3 separate regions of the Homo sapiens genome follow, and all the other regions are reported to be linked to region 2. Evidence: microRNA targets listed by miRTarBase, many of them from high-throughput screens and not tested one by one. Region 2 holds a microRNA gene; each other region holds the end of a gene's coding sequence.

Region 1 (3,259 bases), not on the chromosome of region 2:
AAATCAGAGGCTTCCTATCCTATAGGAAAGATTCATGCTTGTTTTTCAAATTCAGTACAATTCTCCCAGTGATTTCTAGGAAAGAATAAAGAGGAGAGGAGAGGTAGACATCAGAATGTAGAGAGGCAATACTGTGTAAAAATGAAAAACAAAAAAAAAAACTTTATTTCTATTTTCCCAGGCTGCACAAATCTGGCTTTGATGAAGAAACTCAGAAGATCCTGATGTCTGTGGAAGAAAAAATTCCCCATCTGACCATTTCACATGGACCTTGGATTGACGAGGAATACAAGATCAGGGGTGTGCTCCTCTGATGGGGAACACCCTGAAGTAGTCGTCTCACAAAGGCTTTCCTTGGCCACAGTGGGACCTTCACCTGGCACCTCTATCCTGTAATTGCACATCATGGCAGCAGGGCTGTGATTTCAGAGGTACTCCCTAAGTGTTCTAGCAATATGATTATGGAGTGTGATTCAGTGTACATGCTGATTGTCTTTGCCTCGGTCCTATATCCCCTTGTCTTTAGAAATCCCATCCTGCCTTGTGATATTTAGAAGCACAAGTACGTTAAACAAGTGCTAAACGCTCTGGAAAGCATGGCTTTATTTTCTTAATGGATGTCTTGGTGTGTAGGAGCATGCATTTGTAGGCACCACAATCCGGATACTTCTGACACAGAAGTGATGCTAGAATGTGTCTATAGATTGTATTGCTAGCATCCAGACTTTCTAGTTTGTCCAGATTTCGATTTGATCAATTTTCTTGTCCAATAAAAAAGCATTTCCAAATCTCTACTTATCCTTTTATATATGACACCCCAATAGATTTTTCTAAAAATTCAGTATTATTCAAATATATCTACACTGTTTATATTTCAAAACACAATATTAAACACTTCATTGTCATAATTAAACATTCCCTAGTTCCCTACGGTAAATTGCTGATGCCTTATTGGCCTGGTCTAAAATTTTTATTACAAAACATAAAAGCAAGATGATGCAGAAATTGGATTATATAATCAGTTATCATTAGATTGAAATATAATCTCAGATTCTCCTGAGAATGAGAAATTGTGGACCTACTCTTGGATCTCTTGGCACACTCCTGGATTCTTTGGATATTTGGGAGGCTGAATTTTCTATAATCTTCAATGTAGAGTGCTCGCACTTACTTGCTTAATTTTACTTCCAGGTTTTCCATATGTTTAAGCAATTATGAACTTTTTTGCCCAATTTTCTATTTGCTTTTGGCCTTTTCCCACAACTTTAAAGAATGCTGGCATAGGCCAGGAGTGGTGGCTCACGCCTGTAATTCCAGCACTTTGGGAGGTCCACGCGGGCGGATCACCAGGTCAGGACTTTAAGACCTGTAAACACGAGTTTACACTCAAGACTGGACAAGGGTTTCCATAGGACAAAAGACACCATTGTGTGGGGGATTCCAGTGGAAAGAAGAACCAAGGAGTTTGCCACGGCCATGTGGGTGAGAATCTTGTGTGTGGGCCTCATTTGATGCTCAGTCAAGATGGGAAAGATATTATGGAAGAACAGAATGGCATTGGCCAGAGTCCCCACCCCAGTCTGCAAAGGAAAGATGGTTTTTATGGCCACTTCCCCTATGGTTCTTAGGACATTGTTCTGAAAAGACATGGGGAGGGTTTCCAGGTGGTCTGAACTGAAGAGCTGGCTATGTCTGTGATGAGATCAGCACTCTTAGCTTTTCATCTTGGAAAGTTATTTTGGTCTTTCCTTTACCCGAAATAGAGACACTGTCATATTCCACAGAAGGGGCTCAACATGGAGAACATACCCCTGACACCAGTTTCACATTTGACTGGTTTTTGGGTATTTATTTTCATTTGTTATTTGTTCTTTCTTTTGTTTTAGAGTCAGGGTCTGCTTTTTGGCTCAGTCTGGAGGGCAGTGGTGCCATCATAGCTCACTGCAGCCTTGAACTCCTGGGTTCAAGTGATGCTCCTGCCTCAGCCTCCTGTGTAGCTGGGACCACAGGTGCACACTACCGTTCCTTTTTTTTTTTTTTTGAGAGACAGCCTCACTCTGTTGCTCGCCCAGGCTGGAGTGCAGTGGCACAATCTCGGCTCACTGCAGCCTCCGTCTCCTGGGTTCAAGTGATTCTCCTGTCTCAGCCACCTGAGTAGCTGGGATTTCAGGCATGCGCCACCATGCCCTGCTAGTTTTTGTTTTGGTATTTTTAGTAGAGATGGGGTTTTGCCATGTTGGTCAGGCTGGTCTCAAACTCCTGACCTGAGGTAATCCGCCTGCCTCGGCCTCCCAAAGTGCTGGGATTACAGGCCTGAGCCACCGCGCTCAGCCCATTTAAATATTTTTTAGTATAGACGGGGTCTCACTATGTTTCCCAGGCTGGTCTGGTACTCCTGGCTTCAAGTGATCCTCCCACTTCAGCCTCTCAAACTGCTGGGATTACAGGCACAAGCCATCGCACCTGGCCCATTTACTTTTTTTTTTTAATCTCTCTTTACTATTGTTTTTTAAATCTCTCTTTACTATTGTTTTTTAAATCTCTCCCTTCCCTTCCCCTCTTTTCTTTCTTTCCTTTTCCTTCCCCTTCCCTCCTTTTTCTCTCTTTCCTGCAATGCTGCAATCTTGGCTCACTGCAGCCTCTGCCTCTGGGTTCAAGCGATTCTCCCGCCTTAGCCTACTGAGGAGCTGAGATTACAGGCATCTGCCATCATGCCCGGCTAATTTTTGTATTTTTAGTAGAGACAGGGTTTTGCCATGTCGGCCAGGCTGGTCTCGAACTCCCAACCTCAGGTGATCCACCCGCCTCAGCCTCCCAAAGTGCTAGGATTTCAGACATGAGCCACCACGCCCGGCCCTCTTTCACTTTTCTAAAACAGTACGCCACTGCATTCCAGCCTGGGTGACAGAGCGAAACACGGTCTTTTAAAAAAAAAAAAAAAAGAAGAAGAAAAAGAGAAGAAAGGAAGAAAAGAGGAGGAAAAAGGAGAAGAAAGAGGAGGAAAGGAAGAAAGAAAAATAAAGGAAGAAAGGAGGAGAAAAAGGAGGAAGAGGAAGAAGAAAAGAGAGGAGGAGGAGGAAGAAGAAATCAAAGTTCTCCAGTCTCATAAACCTGCACATGCAGAGAATCTGGAAAAACTAAAGCTGGGTTGTTCCCCAACCAATGGACATTCTATGGTCCCTTTTCTTCCAGATAATAAGGCCTTCTTTGTAACTGCTATGCAGACCTCTGGCTTCCCATCCAGCATACCTGAACTAAG
Region 2 (3,259 bases):
AGGTCTTAAGGGTATTTCCTAATATTTAAAAATCTTGACGGTATTTTAGGGTTTGTTTGGCTTTAATTTACGTCTACGTTTTTTTTTCCACTGTCAAGTAGCTATTGTTCATAAGAGCATAACATGAGTGGTCAAATAGCCTTTAATGATGCAGCAAGGATGGGGTAGATGAATTGGGCTATAGAAATATACCAATACATGGAGATTATTTCCAGAGACATCGTGTGGACTTCTATAATGTATCTTTGAGTCCGGAAGTGAAAATGTAAAATGACTTAATCTAAGACAACTAGTGGTGCTGGGTTGCTTTTGGCCTCCTGATTTTCTTGAGCTTTTTTGGGTGTGGCTTGCTCATGAGTATTTCAGTAGTCTGATTGTAACTCAGGTGCCTTGTTACTTGTGCAACATGTTTTCTTATATTGAAGGAGTGTGGGTTATCTCTTAAAACTGAATATGTTGAATAAGACCTGTATTTCTAGGACGATTTCTCTTAATTTTTAAGCAGATGTGAAGTTTTATGCTGTTAGGTTGTCTTCATCAATTAACCATTATGGAATTGGTCTCAGTTATCTCTTCTTACCAATATCAAGTGCCAAAATGTTTGAATTTGGGATACTCTAATTAATCTACTTCCTATTCCTGAATGTTATTTTGTGCCATTGAAGGCTTTTATGGGGAGTGGCCAAAGAGGAATGTTTGCCTCTTTCTAAGAAAAATGAGCCTTCTAACCACAACCCCTGCCACTCCTGAAGTAATAAGAATTTTGGTGGTTATTGTTTCTCACTTGTAATTTCATACCTTCGTGTTATATGTTTTGCTGTGTGTAAGTGTGGCCTGTGTCATGGACGTTTCTGCTTTGGGGATTTTTTGGAACTATTCTTGACTGCAAGGTGGGGAGGATTGGTGAGTTGCACAGGGCATCACCTGATCTGAGAGCAGCGTGACCTAAGAACCTGGTATTTTGATGCTTTGCTGGCTGGTGCAGTGCCTGAGGGAGTAAGAGCCCTGTTGTTGTCAGATAGTGTCTTACTCCCTCAGGCACATCTCCAGCGAGTCTCTTGCTCTCCTCCAATTTGATTGCTTTGCCTGGTGACCAGTAAGTAAGTTCTTTTGATTACCAAATATCATTAATTAGATATCAACTTTTAAACTATTTATTATTATTTGGGTTTGTAAGGAGAATTGCCCTAATATTAAACTTATTACATGTACTAAGTATTATGTACAATTGGGTATACTGGCAAATGTGTTAAAAGAGAGTGTAGGAACTGCTTTATGTAGCAGATTACTTCCTAAGTTTTACCTTATGTGAATATTCTTAAGAACTATTGTTTATTTGAAATGTTAGTCTGTGTTTTAATTTTGCATATACATGACATTTATTTGTTTAGAAATTGGACAAAACATAGGCCTTTTTGTGAACAAAGAGTTCAGAAATACCTTAGGTTCTGATTTTATTCATTTTCTTTTTTTTTTTATTTTATTCATGTTCTAAGCTGCTTGTTCACAAATAACTACAAATTTAGCTGTTCTAAGCAACACATTTATTACCTCGCAATTTCTATGGGTCAAGAGGCTGGGCACAACTTAGCTGTGTCCTCTGTAAGACTGCAGTCAAAGTGTTGGCCAGGGCTGGGTTGTTATGTAGAGACTCAACTGGGGAAAGGTCTGCCCCCAGACTTCCTTGGGTTATTGGCTGAATTTATTTCCTTGTGTCTGTTTGGTTCAGAGCAGCTTGCTTCTTCAAAGTCAGCAAAGGAAGAGAGTCTATCAAAGGTGAACTGGTGCTATGTTCTTACATAATCGTGTACATGTAATCACATACAACCCATTGCCTTTGCTGTATTTCATTGATTAGAAGCAAGTCATAGGTCCAGTTCACGTGCAAGGGGAGGGAATTATACAAAGGTTTAAACACCAGGAAGTGTAGGAATCAAGAATAGTCACATCAATTCTGTCTGCCACATGGATTATAGACTTAGATTGACAGCTGAACATGCAACTTTTTTTTAAAACTCAGTTTTTATTTACTTTTAAAAAGTTGTACTAATGCATATGGTAAGTATAGTATTAATAAACATGAATTGAGCCCCTTTTAGGGGCTGGGCATTGTAGATATTCAGGGTTTAAATGTGGGGCTTCTTTATGCACTGCTCAACTCTCCATTGAATTTGAGAGATGGATATGTGTGATCATTATACAGTGCAACAAATTCAGTAATAGAACTGTTAACAAAATGCTTCGTGAAGTATCTTTGTCTAGGCTAGTCAAAAAATGCTTCACAGAGGAGGGTACATTTGAACTGTAGTTTGAAGGATTTAGAAGTTTTATGGAGAGAGGGCACTGTAGACTAAAGAAAAATCCACAAAAGCTTGGGTTTTGATAGGGCATACTGAAAAGTTAAATATGTCTGGACTGTAGGGTGCATAGAGGAATGATGAGCACCTGAAGCTAGAAAAATAGAAAGTGGAGCCAGTTGAAGGATTTTATAGTGCTGTAGGTTTGTTTTATCTAATGAAGTTTGAAAGCAGGGGGAGTATCATGATTAGGCCATTGGGCACAATTAACATTCGTAGTTTACATGGATGGCAACCTTCTCTAGTGGTGCAGACTTCAGGCTGTATGCAGCAACCCTGATCAGGATTCAGTTCTTAAGGAGGAGAGTGTGATAGCAGGAGGATAAGTTAGGATTCTTTTAGAATATAACTGATAGAAGATGCCTACGTTGAAAAGATGGCATTGGTGAGGGAGAAGAAAAGTTAGATTTGATTGAGATTTCTAAGGTAGAACTGATAGAATTGAGAACCTGGGTACACAGTGATGTCTTTAACCAGTATTAAAGATGAAAATAACAAGTTTTAGGAAATGATAATGAGTTCCTTTTAGGCCTGTTAAATTTGAGTGGCTATAGGATTTCCATCTGGATAGAAGTATCCTTTAAGTGGCTGGAAACATGAGTCTCTAATTCAGGATATTACAAAAAACTGAGAAATCAAATTGCAGGATATAAATGATTCCAGAAAGTGGATAAGATTACTAAGGGATGAATATAGATTGACGAAGGACAAGGATGGAATCCAGAGGAGCAAGTATTTTAAGAGACAGGCAGAGGAAGAGGCCAGCAGTTAGAATTCAACCAGAGGGAAAGGAAGTTTTTTAAAACCTTTTTTTTTTAATTATAAAAATAATACCTGTTCACTAGAGAAAAACTGACATACAGAAAAGCAGTGGCTCACGCCTGTAATCCCAGCACTTTGGG
Region 3 (3,215 bases), not on the chromosome of region 2:
TAGTTTTGTTGGTTATATCAATGTTGCTAAATTTAGTTTTTCTTTCCAAGGTTTAACTTCAGCCAGATTTGTCTGAGTAATAAAATTAACCCTATCCTCTTACACAGTAGGGGCTTATCTTTAGAGAATGAGTGTAAACTTTTCTTAATAACAGAGAAGATAACTTTAAACTTCAAGGATGGGTGCGGTGATTGATAGTGGAGCAGGGTGGGAGAGAAATGTTTCCAGAGAGGATGATCACATTGCCAACACTCAGGATGGATCATTGGAAGTCCTTTGGGTTTGCTGATGAAACAGAGAGCTCAGGGTGGAAATGACAACCCATTCTCTGGCAAAGTGGACTGTGGACCCCTGCACGAGCTATGAGTGTCCTGTTGCCCAACAGGGACTCTGTAGGCTATGGGATCTGGGTGTGGACCACCAGCCTTTCCTCCATCTGAGTGGACTTGTGCTGGTGAAGTATCTTCTGGAAGTCCAGCAGATAGAAAGTAACATACAGAAAGAGCAGACCGGGACGTGGGAATTGGGGGGCACAGGGAAGACGAAGGATGAAAATAAGCAGGACAGGGCTTTTTCAAATGTTCTCTTAACACCGAGGCTGAAACAGGCATAGCTCATTCCCGTAAACCACGGAGAGTTTGATGAGAAACTCTCCTCTCCCCACCTTTTGGGACTATAGATCTTCAACATCTATTTATTTATCTAGGTGCGTTTTCTCAATTTTAGTAATTCTGAGGGGAGGGGAGAGAGCAGTCACCACCAGAAGGATGGAGGTGATGTCTCAGGTTGGCTTGCCTCTGGCTGCCAGCCAAGATCAGACACAAGCATAGGTGCTGTAATGTCCAGGCAGCAGGACAGAATGGAAGAAGGTTCAGGCTCAGTCGTAGAAGATTCAGGTTCTACTCAAAGCCCAGCTCAAATGATACCACCTGTGGAAAGTCTTCTTTGGTGCTCTAGAGCAGGTAGTGTCCTTTGCCCTTAGATGGACATTAGATGGTATTTACTTAGTTGATTACCTGTTAACTCTTCCCCAATGGACAGCAGACTGGCTGCTTGAGAGCAGGGATTCTTTTCTCATTAATCAGTGTATCCTCTTTAGAATGATTTATCAGTTATCTTTTGCTGCATAAAACTTCCCACTCTTTATGTATTAAAATTACAAACATCTTTATTATTTATCACAGTTCTGTGGATTATCTGTACAATTCTTATGGTCTGTGTCAGCCTGACTGGGGTTGGATATAGTCTAGGATGGCTTTACTCGTGTCTGGAAGTTGGTAGGCTGGTTGATCTGCGGACAGGGCTCAACTGGGATGATTCATTTATGTTCCACATGGTCTCTGATCCTCCGGTAGGCTAGCCCAGGATGCTTTACTTGGTGGTCTCAACTCCATAGAGCAGCAAGTGATGTAAGTCCTGATGCATAGGTTATTACCAAACCTCTGACTGCATCACATTTACTAATGTCCCATTGGCCAAAGCAAGTTACAAGGCCAAGATCAAATTTAAAGGGGAGAGGCTGGGCGTGGTGGCTCACACTTGTAATCTCAGCACTTTGGGAGGCCGAGGCAAGTGGATCACCTGAGGTCAGGAGTTTGAGACCAGCCTGGCCAACATGGTAAAACCCCATCTCTACGAAAAACAAAAATTAGCCAGGCATAGTGGCAGGCACTTGTAATCCTAGCTACTTGGGAGGCTGAGGCAGAAGAATCGCTTGAACCCAGGAGGTGGAGGTTGCAGTGAGCCGAGATTGTGCCATTGCACTCCAGCCTGGGCAACAGAGCGAGACTTCATCTCAAAAAAACAAAACACAAAACAAAACCGACAAACAAGCAAAAAAATTTAAGGGATACAGATACAGACTTCATCTTTTCATAGGAGCAGGTGCAAAGTCACATTATCACGAGGAATTTATGGTCATTTTTGCAATATTCTACAAAATCTTGTTTGGCACACAGTAGGTAATCAAGAATGCATGTTGCAAGAATTAAGAGGTAAAGTCTATTCAAATAATATTCATGTTCACTCCTCATCCCTCCCCATTGGCACATCTACTTCCATGCCTCCTATTCATTGTTGGGATCTTTGAGTTGGGAGAAAATGTTATCTAATCGTTTGAAATGTTTGTTGCCCCTCATTTAATATGCATGGCTCCTTTCTATCTGAGAGTTTTCACACTGGTCATCTTGGCCCTACCCATCTCAACACTGGAGCCGTGCACAACTTTCTGGCTTGTGGATTATGTGCCCACCCTTAATGTTTGCTTTTTGAACAGACCCAGAAAAGGGAAAACCGGTTGTCTGCCAAAGTGTGGACAGTCTTAGCTGGCTGCATCTCCTTTGGCCAGTTGCTGCCACTTGGGGCCCTCTGGTGGCTGCTTCTTGCATAGCTCCACGCTAGGTATGAAATTCATTGTGTGAATTATCATAAGCTTGGATAGAGTCCAGAGCCTTCCAAGGGAAAGCTCACAATGTAGTGGAATGCCAGAGGTATGAAAAGAAGAAGTAATAAACAAAACAAAAATGTAAAAAATTACCATTTAGAGCTTGTAGCTTTCTTGTTTCACCATGACTTGGCCCAGAGAAAAGGCAAAGCAGTGACATAAAGATAATGCATATAAAAGAGATCTGGCCAGGCGAGGTGGCTCACGCCTGTGATCCCAGCATTTTGGGAGGCCGGGGTGGGTGGATCACCTGAGGTCGGGAGTTCAAGACCAGCCTGACCAACATGGAGAAACCCCGTCTCTACTAAAAATACAAAATTAGCCAGGCGTGCTGGACTATGCCTCTAATCCCAACTACTCGGGAGGCTGAGGCAGGAGAATCGCTTGAACCCAGGAGGCCGAAGTTGTGGTGAGCTGAGATCGCATCATTGTACTCCAGTCTGGGCAACAAGACAGAAACTCCGTCTCAAAAAAAAAAAAAAAAAAAAAAAGAGATCCATATAATTAAAAGTCGGGTGCTGGTAGGCAAGGAGCAGTGCCAGGCTCACCGAACAAAAGTGGTGGAGTTGGAAAAGGGGTGAGAGTCTTCTGACTTGAGCAGCTCGTCCAGGGCCTGGTAGGTCCCCACCACAAAGCCCACGAAGCCCAGGATGCTGATCAGGGCGTCCTTGAAGATGGTGAGGGGGCTCATGCCCTCTGAGTAGAACGTGGTGACCTCCAGGAGCGGTGGGATGATGAGGGCCAGGGCGGTGCCACTCACGGAGCCCACCAG

What was found. The annotated mature microRNA hsa-miR-550b-2-5p reads AUGUGCCUGAGGGAGUAAGACA and lies in region 2 at 1,023-1,044, opposite strand. An mRNA with a match to its seed (bases 2 to 7 or 8) in the 3' UTR can be bound and repressed. Matches are read on the target gene's strand: a 7mer-m8 pairs with bases 2 to 8, a 7mer-A1 pairs with bases 2 to 7 and ends in A, and an 8mer does both.
Region 1: the mRNA of NLRP9 is a reported target of hsa-miR-550b-2-5p. The part of its 3' UTR that is shown has no 7-base or 8-base seed match.
Region 3: the mRNA of SLC36A2 is a reported target of hsa-miR-550b-2-5p. Seed matches in the 3' UTR shown: 7mer-A1 at 1,751-1,757.

What each region holds. Positions count from the first base shown.
Region 1 is chr19:55,705,967-55,709,225 of GRCh38, reverse strand. It overlaps NLRP9 (NLR family pyrin domain containing 9), which reads left to right. Exons shown (of 9, transcript NM_176820.4): 9 at 182-788. The coding sequence ends at 314. EPN1 (epsin 1) reads right to left here. Exons shown (of 11, transcript NM_001130072.2): 11 at 1-3,259. It also overlaps the pseudogene VN1R106P. Among named protein-coding and RNA genes, the nearest start is that of NLRP9, 31 kb to the left of the region's middle.
Region 2 is chr7:32,732,019-32,735,277 of GRCh38, forward strand. MIR550B2 (microRNA 550b-2) reads right to left here and starts at 1,059; the gene lies at 963-1,059. It overlaps MIR550A2 (microRNA 550a-2), which reads left to right and starts at 963; the gene lies at 963-1,059.
Region 3 is chr5:151,313,830-151,317,044 of GRCh38, forward strand. It overlaps SLC36A2 (solute carrier family 36 member 2), which reads right to left. Exons shown (of 10, transcript NM_181776.3): 10 at 1,143-3,215. The coding sequence ends at 2,988. Among named protein-coding and RNA genes, the nearest start is that of SLC36A3, 12 kb to the left of the region's middle.